Homo sapiens: one gene and its partner. The protein of the gene in region 2 interacts with the protein of the main gene of each other region in a biochemical or structural test. Each region holds a gene or a part of one and is shown on either strand. Other genes may lie near its edges.

Region 1 (7,611 bases), on a different chromosome or scaffold from region 2:
ACAGTAAGAACTCAACAATGTTCTCTATGTTACGTGAACACGAAGTGAATTTCGGTAGCTCATCACCCATAACTGATTATATGGGTCCAGACAGAGGATAGTTTATAACAACAAAATAATCATCATACTTAATATAATTATTATACTTAATATTTCTAGGCAAAGTGACTAAAAAGGGTTCACGAATAGATGAAATAGAAAGATCACCCAAGTATTAAAAATAAACTGGTTCCTACCTCTTGCCACCTTAAAGAAATCACTGTACCTCTCTGAACTGCATTTAATCAACTCCAAAAGAAGATACAAAAGTCACAGGATCTCAGTAGATCCTATCAAATTTATCCAGATCCTATCAAATTTAATCCAATTCCAGCAAAAAGAATTGGCTGGGAACCGTTCGCCTCTAAAACCACTCATTCCAGACAAGTATGATTGATTTTAGCTGATTGTATAGCTTTCTTTGCATTTCATGGACAAAACCCAGAAAGCTCTCACCACTATTAACTTAAATCTTGGGCAGCTGTTTCTTAATTTATCTTAAATAATCTTGAAAATTACCTATCAAAAGGTCTACTCCGTTTTCCTCTTAAATCACTATGTGGCTCATCTCAGCACTGCCCCCTTCCAGCCTACAATCAGCAACCCATGAGGAAAGCTGCAGTAAATGGATGGATGAACAAGTCACGGGCAATTTCTGCTCAGAATGTTTAACACAACACAGACAAGTCCCAACTCCCAAAGCCACGGTGATAGTCGTTTACTTTGGTTCAGAACTGCCACTAGACTAAGATAAGCACCATGAGCATTACATAACCACAACGAACTTAAATATTGTTATTCCCATTTTACAGACAGGCTCAGGGATTTAAGGGACCTAGGCAAGGTCACATATCCTGTAAGTGGTGACGCCACGATTCAGTCTCATTGCTTTTTTGCTTTTCCCTGAGACCAAGCTCTTTCCAGTACACGGCCAGGCTCGCGCCCCTCGGGAGCGCTTGTGGGAAGCGCAACCCTCGCCTGCCCGCACCAATCCACAGGTGCGCGCAGGAGCCGCTCGGGGGCCCTGGCCCTGGCCCGCCGAGGCCCGGACAGCCCCGCAGGCCATGACCGCAACCCTCGGGTCCCGAGGCGCCGCTCCAGGCGGGAGCGCCAACTCCCACGGCCCTTCCGACCCCCGCGTCCCATTGTTCCGAATCTCACTCACCTCGGAGGATGCCGGCGCAGGCCTGGCTGGGGCGCTCGCCGCGAGCTCCCGGCAGCCCAGAAAGCTAGGTCGGTGTCGGCAGGATCCGCGAAGGCGTACCCGGCGACTTCTCCGCCTACCCTCCGAAGCGGGAGCAGGCGGGGGCGCTTCACCCTCCTCGCGAGACAGCGGAGACCCCAGCGGCGGCTGCGACCCCTGTGACGCAAAGGGCTCATCACCAATGGCAGCTCGGAAGCAGGGCAGAGAGCGAGACCCACCCCCCAGCTCCCGCGCATCAAAACACAACACCCGCCTTCCTCACGCATGCGCAGCAGATGGACGCCGGCCTCGGGGGCGGGGCTCAGCGCACCGGCCCAAATGCGGCCCCTCCCCCGCCGCTCCAGACCCCGGAGGAGGGCAGCGCGACCCTCCCCATCTTGTTACTGGTACTCAGCCACTGGGGACACTGACTGAATGTTCGCCCCTAACTTACCCGGAAAACACGAGAACTAGTTCGATGTCGTTTCAACCTTACCAAACTCTGCGGAAACTTAGGAAATTATCTTTAGTGTCTAGATAGGGGAATTGTTAGATGGACTTGAAGTCTCTCACCTCCTGTTGTACGCCTCCCGGAAGCAACACCAGGAGTCCAACGGGATCCCAAACCAGAGCCCAACCAGTATCCTATAAAGTCTTCAGAGAGGGATCCCCTCCAGGCTGGGGAGAAACAGGACAACCTAACAAAACAGGGCCTGGACTCCTCCCTAAACAGACCACGTTTTTCTCCGCTCTTCCCCTTCCCACTCCCTGAAATCTAGACTAAAACTCTTTTAAGATAACTGCGAGGTATAAAGAACGTCTAGAGCCTAAGCGGCCCGTTGCCAGATTCTACTCCTCAGGCCTCAAATGTGAGCGCCCCAAACATTCTAGAGCTGAACCTGGTACGCTCGCCCACCAAACTGCCGTGCTCGGGGCTTAGTATCTCACGCGCGGCAGTTCAAGAACATCAGACACGCTCAACAAACACTTGTTGCTTGACTGATACATTATGGCGGGTAACGCGTCCCACGTATTTCTTCTTAGAGATATACATTACGCTATACGTTTCTGAAGAATGGCTCGATTTACAGGGGTTCCCACAACGATTTGTCACATATAAAAGAGTGGGTGGTATTTTTACGTCAAAGATGAACAGGCGAACGTCCATCTAAATCGTGTGGTATCAGATGCGGGGAGGCGTGGGGGAGGGAGCGGGGGAGAAAGCGTTAATTCTTCCAGCTTTAGAGCCAGACGTAATATTTAAAACGTGGATTGTTTTTCAAATTAACTTTTAAATGGACACGACAGCACCTTATCCTGCATTAATATTGCATTGCAACTAGAAAGAAAACCAGTGGAGGTACGCCTATCTCCTTAGTTGGCAAAAAAAAAAAAAAAAAAGCAATTTTTAACATTTTCTCGTTTATTCCCCTCTCTAAAAGGCGGGCAAGGCCCCCGATCACGTGATACCGCCCCCCAACTCCGGGCGGAAGAGGCCAGCGACAGCGCTGCACGAAGCGAGTGGGCGGGCGCTCGTGCCCGGCTAAAAGATGGCTGCTGGCGCCTGGCAGCCACCGCCTGGGAGGTTACTGTAAGGCCCGCAGCTCCCGCCAGCTCCCGCGGACTGCTGCCGCCTCCTTACCATGAAGCCAGTAAGTCGTCGCACGCTGGACTGGATTTATTCAGTGGTAAGTCCCGGGGATCGCGGGCCCCCACCGTGTCGACTCACTGGGCCCGCAGGCGGAAAGGCCCTATTTCTTCAGCACCCAGAAACTCCAAAATCCATTCCTGAATTAAGCATTTCACTCCCTCACCTCGACTCCGCCTCTTCCTGGAGGATACGATCTTCCGCTTCTTACGTAAGGGCTGCTGGGTGTACCCGCCACTGGAACCCCATTTATTCGACTTTGTTACTTTAATTCCCACCTTAGCAATGGCAACGGTAACCTGACGGGGGCGAGGGGAAATATCAGGTAGATTTCACACCTCCTTTGCGATTTTTGGTTTAGTTGCTGCTTGCCATCGTTTTAATCTCCTGGGGCTGCATCATCTATGCTTCGATGGTGTCTGCAAGACGACAGCTAAGGAAGAAATACCCAGACAAAATCTTTGGGACGAATGAAAATTTGTAACTCTTCTGGATTTAATTATCTGAAAATACAGTTCTTTCCCTCATGCTTATGTAGATATAAAAATAAAATTCATAATGCAAAGTTCCCAAGTTTATTTTTGCATTATCCTTTATAACAAGCACTAGTATGCAAATTTTTCACTTAGAGATTTTAGTATTTTACATTCTCATGACAAAATTAACAGCAACCTAAATCTGACAGTCTTGAGTGTCAGATCATAGTTGGAATAAGCTTTTCAATCAAGTTTCTAAATTCTTCAAAAATGATTCGGAAAGCTTTTTTTTTTTTTGAGACGGAGTCTTGCTCTGTCGCCCAGGCTCAGTGGCACTATCTCGGCTTACTGCAAGCTCCGCCTTCTGGGTTCACACCAATCTCGTGCCTCAGCCTCCGCAGTAGCTGGGACTACAGGAGCCCGCCACCACGCCCGGCTAATTTTTTTGTATTTTTAGTAGGGACGGGGTTTCACTGTGTTAGCCATGATGGTCTCGATCTCCTGACTTCGTGATCTGCCCGCCTCGGCCTCCCAAAGTGCTGGGATTACAGGCATGAGCCACTGCGCCTGGCCGGAAAGATTTCCTTAAAACAAAAGTGCATGGAATTGCTGTTCTTACATTTGTTTATTGTGATATTTCACTGTTGCATACCCTGATACCAAATTAGTGTAAGTACTGTGTAAGAAAAAAACAAACAAACATGTAACTAAATACTTTTCCATACCGTTTTCCAAGTCAAGAATGACCAGAAAAAGTAGGTAGTCTCTCATATTTGTTTAGCATGTCCACTTTTTACTTATTGTTAAATTACTCAGTCTCAAATTGTACAATGCTTGAAAACAGATATGACAATTTCTGAGATTAAACTTTATTAAAGTTACTTTTCCAGAAAATTCAGTAAATATGGTAATATAGGAACAAACTTAGGCTCATAAGCCTTTTAACTTTTTACATAATCTTTAATGATGTTGATCAGGAAATTCTTTCATTGGTGGAATTACTTCTCCAGTCTCCAGAATTGTATCACCCTAGGAAAACAAAGATACAGTTAGTACAAAAATCTTAAGTCTACAGAGGTGATAGTTCTATTCTGTTCTATGTTCATCAGATCTCACATGGAAAATGTACTTGAGTTCTGGCATTCCCTTTAAAAGGACCCTAGACAAAGTAGAAGCTGACTAAATCTGAACAATCAGTATTCAAAATTTTAAGGTATAGTGAAATAATAGGGAAATTTTCACTCAGAAACAAAATAATCAAAAAGGGCACGAAAATTGTGTTCTCTAAGTGATAAAGGGATAATCTTTTATTTTGTATGACCCCAATAAATGGAGGCCCCAGAAAGAAGTTGCAAGGAAACATCTGCAGTTCCAGATAAGGAGGTAATGTACCCCCAGCAACTGAATGTGTTACGCAATCACCAGTTTTCTGATTGGCTTACATACTGAATACAGAATACAAACTTTGGCTAGGCAGCTGGTCCAGATGTCTTTTCAATTCTTGATATAGATGTGGGCAAAAAGGCATGGGCATTGAAGCCAGAACCAAGTGGTAAGAATCTTGGAACCTCCACTGACAAGCTGTATAGTTTTAAGACAGATTATTCAATTTCAGTTTCAGCCATGTGTTTAAGATAGATTCTGTTAGCCTGCCAGTCCCTGAATGACTGGGAAGAGTAGAATTGTCCCCATACCCACCCCAATCCCTGCCATTCCCTGACCTGGTACTGCTCAGGATTATAGTCCAATGAAAAAATAAATATGTTTATGCCATTATACATTTGGGCAACAATTTGTTAGTACAGCTAGCATTATCCCAATAGAAATCATTGCCTTGAAGTGGCACTAATGCTGCTGTAATAAAAATCAAGCTATAGGGCACTGGCTTAGCAGTCTGGTAGCAAAGATAAAGATGGAAACAAAAGGCAGTGGCAAACTATTTAGCAAAATATCTCCTATAACTTGGAAGCTGACTGCCTAATGAACTTGAGGTTCTAGAAGAAGTAGCTGGGAAAAAAAGTTATAGTATGTGTTTGGATCCTTGGGATCCTTGGATGCCTTGGGAATGTACTTTAAGAAGCATGAGCTCAGGCAAAAAGTGGCTGATTTGAGAGGCGACATAAAAATGGAGAGGACGAGAGAACACTTTGGTGCACGCTAGAGACTTTCTGTTCCTGACCAAAAAAAAAAAAAGTTAATAGAATCTAAAAATTTGGGCCAGTCATGGTGGCTCATGCCTGTAATCCCAGCACTTTGGGAGTCCAAGGCAGGAGGATTGCTTGAGGCCCAGAGTTCAAAACCAGCCTGAGCAAGAGTAGGACCCTGTATCTAAAAAATAAATAAAAAATCAGGACCTTGTGGTATTGAAAAATCACACTACTTCAGAATTCCTAAACAATAAGTTAACACAAGAAATCTGAGCAACAGAAGCCCAATAAAACTCAAACAGAGGGACACAGCCCTATGGCAAAGATCAGTTTAAAATGAAGGTAGCCTTTGAACCAGTCTGCCTCAGATGGCCTCCACATAGCTGCCACAGAGGTGAGAGAGGCAGATGCATAAGGACAAAGAAATGAGACAAGCTGGTAACTGTGTATAGGAAAAACAGATACTGGCATGAGACACTGACTAGAAGTAAACACATTAGATGTCTACCAAATATTTTTCTTTTCATGCTTCTAAATGTTAAGGGAAATGGATGGACAAACCAAACATATAGTTTACAGAATCCTGCCAGAATGTTTGAAATTAAAACAACCTCTGGCATTCAACCTCCTGCAAGCAGGTGGCAGATTCTGAAGCCCATACAGCCCCCTAAGGAGGGCATGCTTCCCAATACCATTTAGATGTGGTCTAGGTAGATAATGAAAAGAACAAACCCCCTGGACAGAGCCAGGAACCAGGAAGAACGATGGATAAAGGTGTTCTTTCAAGAAAACAAAATCAGTGCCCATTCAAGTAATTTCTCACACACGGGTTAGGAGTGAGATTTCAGGATTGCCAAGAACCAGTGACTACTATGCTATCCAAATTCTACCACTGAACAATGGGTGTGGTTGGGGGACAAGGATACAGTTAACTTGTCTTCTTAGTTCACTGATCCTCAGATCAACAGAAGTCATATATAAACCTGACATACTATTTTACATCATCTGGAGATCATGGATTTGGGGCCGGGGTGCAATGATGGAATGGGACTTTGGGATTTCTCCCTAAGGAGAGAGACTAAGTGTGTTATGCATGGGTAAAGAAAGAAGCCAAGAGCTGTTTGGTGACTAGAAAGATGGAATGTAGCAGAAACTCCATGAACAGGGGTCTGGGAAATAGCAAAGAGCACACAGATAATATTTGGGAAGATGACAGTGAGTTTTAGCTAACAGAATTTGAGCAGAAGTGATGTAAGCTACTTCTAAGCTTAGATCCTAAAAATCATCCCCTGAGACATCCTGCCGTATCTTTGTATCACAATCTTGGAACCTCATATTCGATAGGCACGGCTGTAAGATTGAGGAAGATCACCTGATTCACAGTAGTCTGTGATGTCAACAAGAAATAAACCTCTGTTTTGTTAAGCCATTGAGATTTGGAAGTTTGTTATTACTTGTCCTATTCTAAACATATATACAATGAGCATTCTTCAGTTCCTCAAAGGGGTCATGGCACAGAAACAAGAAAGAACCACAGTGGCAAAAAATACAGAAATATGAGAAATGCTACAGGATCCCTGATATGGTCTTCTGAATAGAGCTCTCCTTTTCCTTTGAACAGTAAATGGCAAAATAAATTAACATTTAAATGGAATAAATGGAAGACTAAATAAATATAAATTGCCCAGCTGGAAAAACCAGCAAGATAATTTCCTATTTTGAGACTACCTAGGCTGTAACACACATCAATGTTACACAATAAAACAAAAGGAGAAATCCCCTACTTTTTTTTTTTTTTTTTTTTTTTTTTGAGGCAGGGTGCTCTGTCGCTAAGGCTGGAGTGCAGTGGCGCAATCTTGGCTCACTGCAACCTCTGCCTCCCAGGTTCAGGCAATTCTTGTGCCTCAGCCTCCCCGGTAGCTAGGATTACAGGCGTGCACCACCATGCCCAGCTAATTTTTGTATTTTTATTAATAGTAGAGATGGAGTTTCACCATGTTGGCCAGGCTGGTCTCAAAATCCTGACCTCAGGTGATCCACCTGCCTCTGCCTCCCAAAGTGCTGGCATTACAGGTGTTAGCCACCGCGCCTGGCCCCCACTTTTTTTTTTTTTTTTTC
Region 2 (7,561 bases):
ATTCTGCGCTGTGTTCTTCCTCTGTGAAAATCCAATACCTCTTACCTCCTCTGCATGCAAAGATTCTCAAGGATTGTCAGACTTCAAACGTAACAGCAGAACCACCAGAAGGTCCTATAAATGCAGTAGTGACCTTCTCAAGCTGTCAGGTCTTTAAATAGGATTTGGGATTTAATGCTATGTATTTTTAAAGGAAAGAAATAAGAGTTGCTAGTTTTAAAAATGCATGTCTTTTAGCCAATTCAGAATCTGCCCCCAAACTTTTTTAAAAAGTCAAGACAGATAAAGCTTTGGGGAGACGGAAAAAAAAAAAAAAAAAAAAAAAAAAAGACCAGATCTCGGGCTAAATAAGCGAGGCATAAGTTAGGTGCAGCCAGACTAAAAATCTGGACTAAAATGAAGCCCTTTAGTGAGTAATTGCTGCAAAAAGGAACACAAAATTTTAAAAGGAGGGAAGGAAGAATTATGTTGCCTTTCAGGATACAGTATATATGATAGCCTGAAAACTCCAGGAAACTTCTGATTCTAAATTCTCCAGCCCAAGGGAAAAAAGTTGAGAAGAGGCCTTTCCACTTTCTACTAATAAAAAAATGCAACAGCCCCTAGCAGCAGTGTGGAGACCCTCCTTAGGCCCCTGTCTTGGACAAGCGGAGATTCTCCTGGCCCGGCCCCCCCTCTTGCAGTGGAGTTCTGTTTATACAGCTTGTCTTAAAATCACAGCGAGTGCATCTTGTTCTATTTGGGCCACCCTGTAAATACTTAAGTTGGCATACCATTTTAAAAGGAATAAAAAGGAATAAGAAAAGCTGATATTTTCATCTCCTCCCACCCATCTCCCCCTCCCATGCAAATATGTGCTGAGCATGAGGGCGTTCTCTTGGAGACTCTCTATTTGCCCCTCTCTTTTACAGGGACAGAGAGAGCCTTGGCCATATTCCAAGGCCAACAGGAGGCTTCTGGACTTAAGTTTAATTCAGTTGGTGACATCCTCATCCTGGTTGTCCTTTCTCCTGTTAGGTTTGCTCTTTCAGAGTTGATATTCAGTGACACAGGAGGATGGAGTTGCAGAACAGAATCCTTGGGTGTACAACTCATCCAAAATCATACAAAGTGCTGGAAAATACCACTTGATTTTCCCTCTCTCCCCTTCAAACAGGTAGCCAGAAGCAAAAAAAATGACCTACAGTATGCACTGGAGGAATGACTTAGGTATTAAAACTTTCACTGTCTCTGTTGTTTCATTGTCTCACCAGTGAAGAATCTGAGATTTCCACGCAAATCTCCAATAGCTTTGGTGTGCACACCTCTTGCTCCCTGACCTTGGCCCCTTGTGCTTTTCATAGAGACACCCTGGGGAAGGCAGTTTTTGATCATAATGGTTGTCACCTGAGCTGGCATTACCAAAAAGCTGGGCTCCAGCTGCCCACGCAGTACAGGTATGGGTAGTAAGGATAGCTGTTATACACGGAGACCAGGGAGGCCCGGGAGAAGGCCTCCTCTTTCAGGGCCGGCAAAGAGGAGTGCTTCTCCAAGTCTCCCAGCTCCGAGGAGAGCTGCTTTCGCTTAGTCTTATAGCGTCTGTTCTGGAACCATATCTTCACTTGGGTCTCCGTGAGCTTGAGGTTCTTGGCCAGGTGGGCCCGTTCAGGGGCCGACAGGTACTTCTGATGGCTGAACTTCCTCTCCAACTCGATCACCTGAGTGTGGGAGAAGGCAGCTCGGGAGCGCTTCTGCGGCTGCTTAGGGGTTTGGGGAAGCCTTGGAAGGGCGCCTGAAGTGTTTTCAGAGTCCAACAGATAAGACCCCAAGTGCCTTTCTGGAAAGGAGAGTGGGGAAGGAGGGATGGGAAGACAAAAGTTACATGTTAGCAGGGAAGAGAACAGAATTCAATCCACCCTTATCTCTTTAGTGAGTGAACAAACAGCCCACTGTCATCGTGGATACATTTCACTTTTTTCACATGACTAAGGAGCTCTCCGGAGTGAAGAGTGAGTAAATATGTTTATTACGCATTCATTTGCTAAGAATCATCAAGAACCCAAAGTTAGAGACGTTTCGTGGTTGAACTTTCTCCCTACTGTCTAGTAGAATTATATGGGGATTCTGGATCTGTGTGCTGAGGAGAGGCGGGAGAGGGAGGCAGGGAAAATGCCGTGGAACAAGATACCCGGGAAGGCCAGACCAAAAGACATCCGGTGTTAGGATCCAGGTGGGCAAGAGAGGGCTTGTGCCACTGGAGACGCAGAGGCAGGCTCATTCTGGGCTTTAATTCCCTCTTCGCTAAACGAGGCGTTCGGTCGCCTCATCAGAAGTGACAGGAAAGAAAATAAGTGGACTCTCTCTCCTGGACACCGGAGGGAACCCCGAATATACCGCTTTACTGCCCACGGGATTGGGAAGCACACGGAGGCTTTGCTGGTCAACCCCTGCTTTGTCACTGTTAATAAGTTATTATTAGTTCTCATAACTACCGGGGGGCTGGCGCCGATCGCGGGTGGCGCGGGGCGGGATCCGCTCCTGGGACGGTGGAGGGCGGTGGCGCTGCAGTCGCGCCGGCTTCTGAGCCCCAGGGAGCGGAGGGCACGGAGCCGGGCGAGTCCTGCGGTGTCAGAATCCTGCGCCGCCCTGACGCTGGGGCTCAGGGTTCATTCCGGGGGCGCGCGCGTGGCTGCGGAGGCGGGAAGGTCCCTCTGCCTGTCGCCGCGGAGCCCCGCGTCCCTGCACCCCGAGCTCTGGGGGTCCGCCTTGGGCTGCCCCCCTTCCCCGGCCTCGCCGCTTACCTGGCTCGGTCTCTGCCAGCGTCTCGGCCTCCTCCGGCGCGGCGCGGGGCCCGGTGCTCAGCTGGTCGTTCTGCGCCCCGGCGCGGCTGCGTCCTCCCTCTGGCTCTGGCTCTGGCTCCGGCTCCGGGTCGCGCTGTCTCTGGCTGCTCGTGCGGCCGCCTTGCCGCTGCGCGCCGTCCCGCAGGATGTCCTGGATGAGGAAGGACGTGAGCGGCTTGGACGGGGTCGGCGGCGCGGCCCCCTCCGCTTTCGCCTCCCCGGGCCGCGGCTCCGGAACCCTGAGCATCCCGGCGGCCCCGCCTTGGCCTGAATGCACCCGCCCGGCCCGCACCGCTTTCACTTTCCGCCTCCCGGCTCGCTTATAGCCCAGGGGAGCGGGCCGCGCCGCCCTCCCATTGGCCGCGGGACGGGCCGCGCCGCGGATTGGCCGCCCTGAGCCCCAGGTGACCCCGCCGATCTGCGAGCCCTGAGCACTGCCCCGCTCCGCTCCTCCCTAGGGGATTCCTTCCCCAGTTCCCTCTCCTTCCCCAATTCCCTCTCCTTCCCCAATTTCCTCTCCTTCTCCAGCTCTCCTCCCTCCGCCCTGAGCCGTTTTCCCAGGCCAGGAGCGCACCCCAAAGCGGGGCTCCTCTGCCCCAACCCACCCGCAACAGAGAGAAGCTCCTGGGGATGGGACGATCAAGACAAACAGTCCAGTTAGCTCTTCAGGACCGTCAGAGCCAATTACAGGGGATGAGCACGCAGTCACTGCAGCCGCGCGGTACCGTGAGAGTTCTGGGTGCTCTCTCTCTCTGGGAGAGATGGTGCAAACTCAGATCTGCAATATCTACGACCTCAAAGAGGCATGACAAGTAGGTGCAGCCAGACCCCAGGCTGAAAGAAGGAAAACACCTTTGCCAAAGCCTTTTCCCGTTGCAGAAGTGGTTTTCTTTGGTGGTTCCTTTATCCGCAATAACCTGTTAACTTTCCTTCCTCCCCAGACACATGACATACCATCCTTTTGAAAAGTTTCCAGACGGATGGAAGGCGTTTTAGGCCAGGACAAATGCAAAAACTGCATTTAAAAAAGTAGTTCAAAAGAACATCAGCATACTCTTTTTGCAGATTACCAACTGTTAACATGTAACCCATTGGCTAAACAATGGGTTAGCCAGATTGGTCCAACCGGTACTGTGACTGGACTGGACGGTACCGTGACAACAGACGAAAGTGGAACAGAGATGATGGAAGTATTTTCTTTCCTTGTCTTTTCTCTTCTTTTTTTTACGGACAGGGTCTCCCTCTGCCGCCCAGGCTGGAGTGCAGTGATGCCATCATAACTCACTGCAGCCTCGATTTCCTGGATTCAAGTGATCCTCCTGCCTTGGCCTCTCAAAGTGCCAGGACTACAGGCATGAGTCTCAGTGTCAGGTCGATGATGGAAGTATTGAATTAATGTTAAATTTACTGAAATTGCACATTGTACTGTCAGTGTACAAGAGAATATTTTTAGGAAATAAACACTGAAGTAAGTAGGAGCAAAGGCACAAGATTTATGAAACTTACATCAAATGGTTCTGAAACAAGGATGCAGATTGATAGATCCCACGCCATAAAGCCGATGGGTTAAATGGTAACAGTTGGTAATCTGGAAAAAGGGTAGGCTGATGTTTTTTAGAACCATTTTTTTAATGCAACTTTTTTGTCTGTCCTGGTCTAAGACGGCTTCTATTCAACTGGCAACTTTTCAAAAGGATGGTATGTCATGTGTCTCTGGAGGAAGGAAAGTTAATAGGTTATTGCTGATAAAGCGACCGCCAAAGAAAACTACCTGTGCAACGGGAAAGACTTTGGCAAAGCTGGTTTTCTTCTCTCATCTTTTCAAAGTCTCTTTATATTAGAACATTCTTTAATGTTTTCTTTTGAATCATTGTAGATTCACAGGAAGTTGCAAAAATAATACCTCCAGTGTCCTCCAAAGACATCTATACAACTGTAGGACAATGTAGAAAACAGGAAATTTACGTTGGGACATTACAGTTAACTAGACTACAGACGTCATTTATTTATTTATTTAGAGATAGGGTCTTGCTCTGTTGCCCAGGCTGGAGTGCAGTGGAGAGATCATGGCTCACTGCAACTTCAACCTCCTGGGCTCAGGAGATTCTCCCACCTCAGCCTCCTGAATAGCTGGGACTACAGGTGTGTGCCACCCTGCCCAGTTAATTTTTGTAGTTTTTGTAAAGATAAGGTTTCACCCTGTTGCCCAGGCTGGTCTCAAAGCCCTGGGCTCAAACAATCCTTCCGCCTCCACCACCCAAAGTGCTGAGACTACAGGTGTGAGCCACTGTGCTGGGCCTTATTGTGGTTTAAATTTTTAATTTGCATTTCACAAATGCCTAGAGATGTTGAATACCTTGTCATGTGCTTGTTTGCCATCCATATTTCCTCTTTGGTGAAATATCTGTTCAAGCCTTTTGCTCATATTATAATTGAATTTTTCTTTCTTTTATTTTTTAACCATTGAGTTATGATAGTTCTTTATATATTGCTGTTTGTAAGTCTTTGTTTGGTAGGTTATTTGCAAATATTATCTCCCAGTCTGTAGCTTGTGTTTCCATCCCTCTAACAGGATCTTCAACAGAACAAAAGATTTTAATTTCATTGAAGATCAATTTATGAATTTTTGAATTTTACAGAATGTGATTTTGATGTCCTGCCTAAGAACTCTTTGTTTAGTCCTAATACTGAAGATTTGCTCCTATGTTATCTTCTAAAAGTTTTATGCTTTACTCTTCAATCCATGATTCCTTCAGAATTAATTTTTGTATATAGTGTGAGGTTTAGATTGAGATGGCCTCCTTTTATTTCTAAAATTGAGAGTTGGGTATGAATTATTTAATAACAAGTGCTGCCATTTGGAAAAGATAAAGTCCTATTCTTATGACAAAATAAATTCCAGACAGCTCAAAGATGTAAAACACAAACGAGCACGTGAAAAAAATATTTTAACTACACTTCATCAGTGAAGGAATGCAAATCAAAATCACATTGAGACGAGCCTTTTCCACCTTTCAGATTGACAAAGGTTAAAAAAAATGGATAATGTCCAGTGTAAGTGAGAGTGTGGAGGAACAGCTGCTCTCATACAGCCATGCACTGCATCGTGACGTTTGATCAGTGACAGACAGCATATATGACGGTGGTTCCATAAGGTTATGATACTGTATTTTTACTGTACCTTTTTATGTTTAGATATGTTTACATGCACAAATTCTTACCATTGTATTACCTTTGCTTACAGTATTCAGTACAGTAACATGCTGTACATGTCTGTAGCCTAGGAGCAATAGGGCATACCATGTAGCCTAGGTGTGTAGTAGACTACATCCATCTAAGTTTGTGTAAGTAGCTCTATGATGTTTGCACAGCAATGAAATTGCCTAACATTGCATCTCTCAGAACATATTCTTGTCCCTAAGGATGCATGACTGTTTTTGGATGACAACTTGGGAATATTTGTCAAAATTAAAACTGAGCATATCCTTTGACACAGCTATTCTGTGTTTGGCAATGTGCCCTAGAAGTGCACAAATACACAATGTATTGACTTGGGAACATATCTTCAATTTGGTCAGAGACTGGTTCAAGCTGCAAAGCATGTTATAGATGAAACCCATTGTATAAAACAGCACTATAAGTTACCTATATAATGTTTTTCATTTGAACACTTTAACATACAGAATATATCAGGAACAAGATTTATACATATGTATTCTTTTTTTCCATAGAGTAGTTACCTCTGCTCAGTGAGATGGAGACAGTAGGTTGGGAGAGGGACAGGAGGATAGTGGAACAGGGTGTATTTCCTTGTACTCATTGATAATTTTAAAAAATGAAAAATATCAAGTTGGAGCTGAGCCTGGACTGCCCTCCTCCACCGCGTCCTCCTCAGGCCTGTGAGTGGGGCCACAGCTCGTGGTCCTCGGCCTCACCTCACTGCATCTTTTCTCCCCTTGTGCTTTGTATTTGGGGGTGTGGATGGCTCATCTTCTTTATGAGACTATGAGCTCCCTGAGAAGGGACTGTATCCTCCTCATATTTGTACCATCTCTAAAGTCTGGCTTAGTTCTCGGCATACAGAAGGCGCTCCATAAGTGCTTGCTGGCTCAATGTCCAGCTCCAGTTGTTATGACACATCTCACTGGCTAGCGGAATTATCCATAAGGGGCCAAAGGACCCCCAGGCAAATCACAGTGGAAGGCTCGTCCTCCTCCCCTTGCTGTGTTTATGCAGTTTAAACCGGGTGAAAATGTGCAAGGCAATCTGGAGACACTCAGGGGCTGCAGCCCAGAACAATGCCCCCTTCCAGCGATGACCAACCCCTAGTCCCCAGATTCTGTGAATATGCTATGTAAATAGACAGCGAAAGTTAATGCTGCAGATGGAATTAGGTTTGCTGGTCCGCTGATCCTGAGATGGGAAGGTTATTCTGGATTATCCAAATGGGCCTGTTGTGTCACAGGGGTCTTTATCAGTACAAGTATGAGGCCAGAGAATCAGAGTCAGACAAGATATGACAACTGAAGCAAGGCTAGAAAGAGTCAACTGTGGGAAAGACTCAACTGGCCCTTGCTGGCTTTGAGGGTGCAAGGAGGCCAGGAGCCAACTGATGCAGGCAGCAGGGAAAGAAAAGAAGTGGATTCTCTCCTAGAGCCACCAGAAGGAACACAACCCTGATGACACCTTGATATTAGCCCAATAAGCCAGTGTGGGCTTCTGATCTCCAGAACCATAGCATA

The links. The genes of interacting proteins can lie anywhere in the genome.
Region 1: the proteins of NKX3-1 (region 2) and TOPORS form a complex in vitro, tested with the Homo sapiens proteins (one study listed by BioGRID).

The regions. Positions count from the first base shown.
Region 1 is NC_000009.12:32,549,570-32,557,180, forward strand, and holds the start of TOPORS (E3 ubiquitin-protein ligase Topors), read right to left. Parts: upstream 3,018-7,611; 5' UTR 2,911-3,017; coding exon of another isoform or gene 2,868-2,910; coding exon 2,865-2,867; exon of another isoform or gene 2,665-2,864; intron 2,239-2,664; exon of another isoform or gene 1,575-2,238; intron 1,400-1,574; coding exon 1,205-1,399; intron 1-1,204. Other genes in the region: SMIM27 (small integral membrane protein 27), read left to right, coding at 2,866-2,910, 3,232-3,354; NDUFB6 (NADH dehydrogenase [ubiquinone] 1 beta subcomplex subunit 6), read right to left, coding at 4,307-4,375. UniProt on the Homo sapiens protein: Functions as an E3 ubiquitin-protein ligase and as an E3 SUMO1-protein ligase. Probable tumor suppressor involved in cell growth, cell proliferation and apoptosis that regulates p53/TP53 stability through ubiquitin-dependent degradation.
Region 2 is NC_000008.11:23,679,824-23,687,384, forward strand, and holds the start of NKX3-1 (homeobox protein Nkx-3.1), read right to left. Parts: upstream 3,116-7,561; 5' UTR 3,067-3,115; coding exon 2,781-3,066; intron 1,817-2,780; coding exon 1,398-1,816; 3' UTR 1-1,397.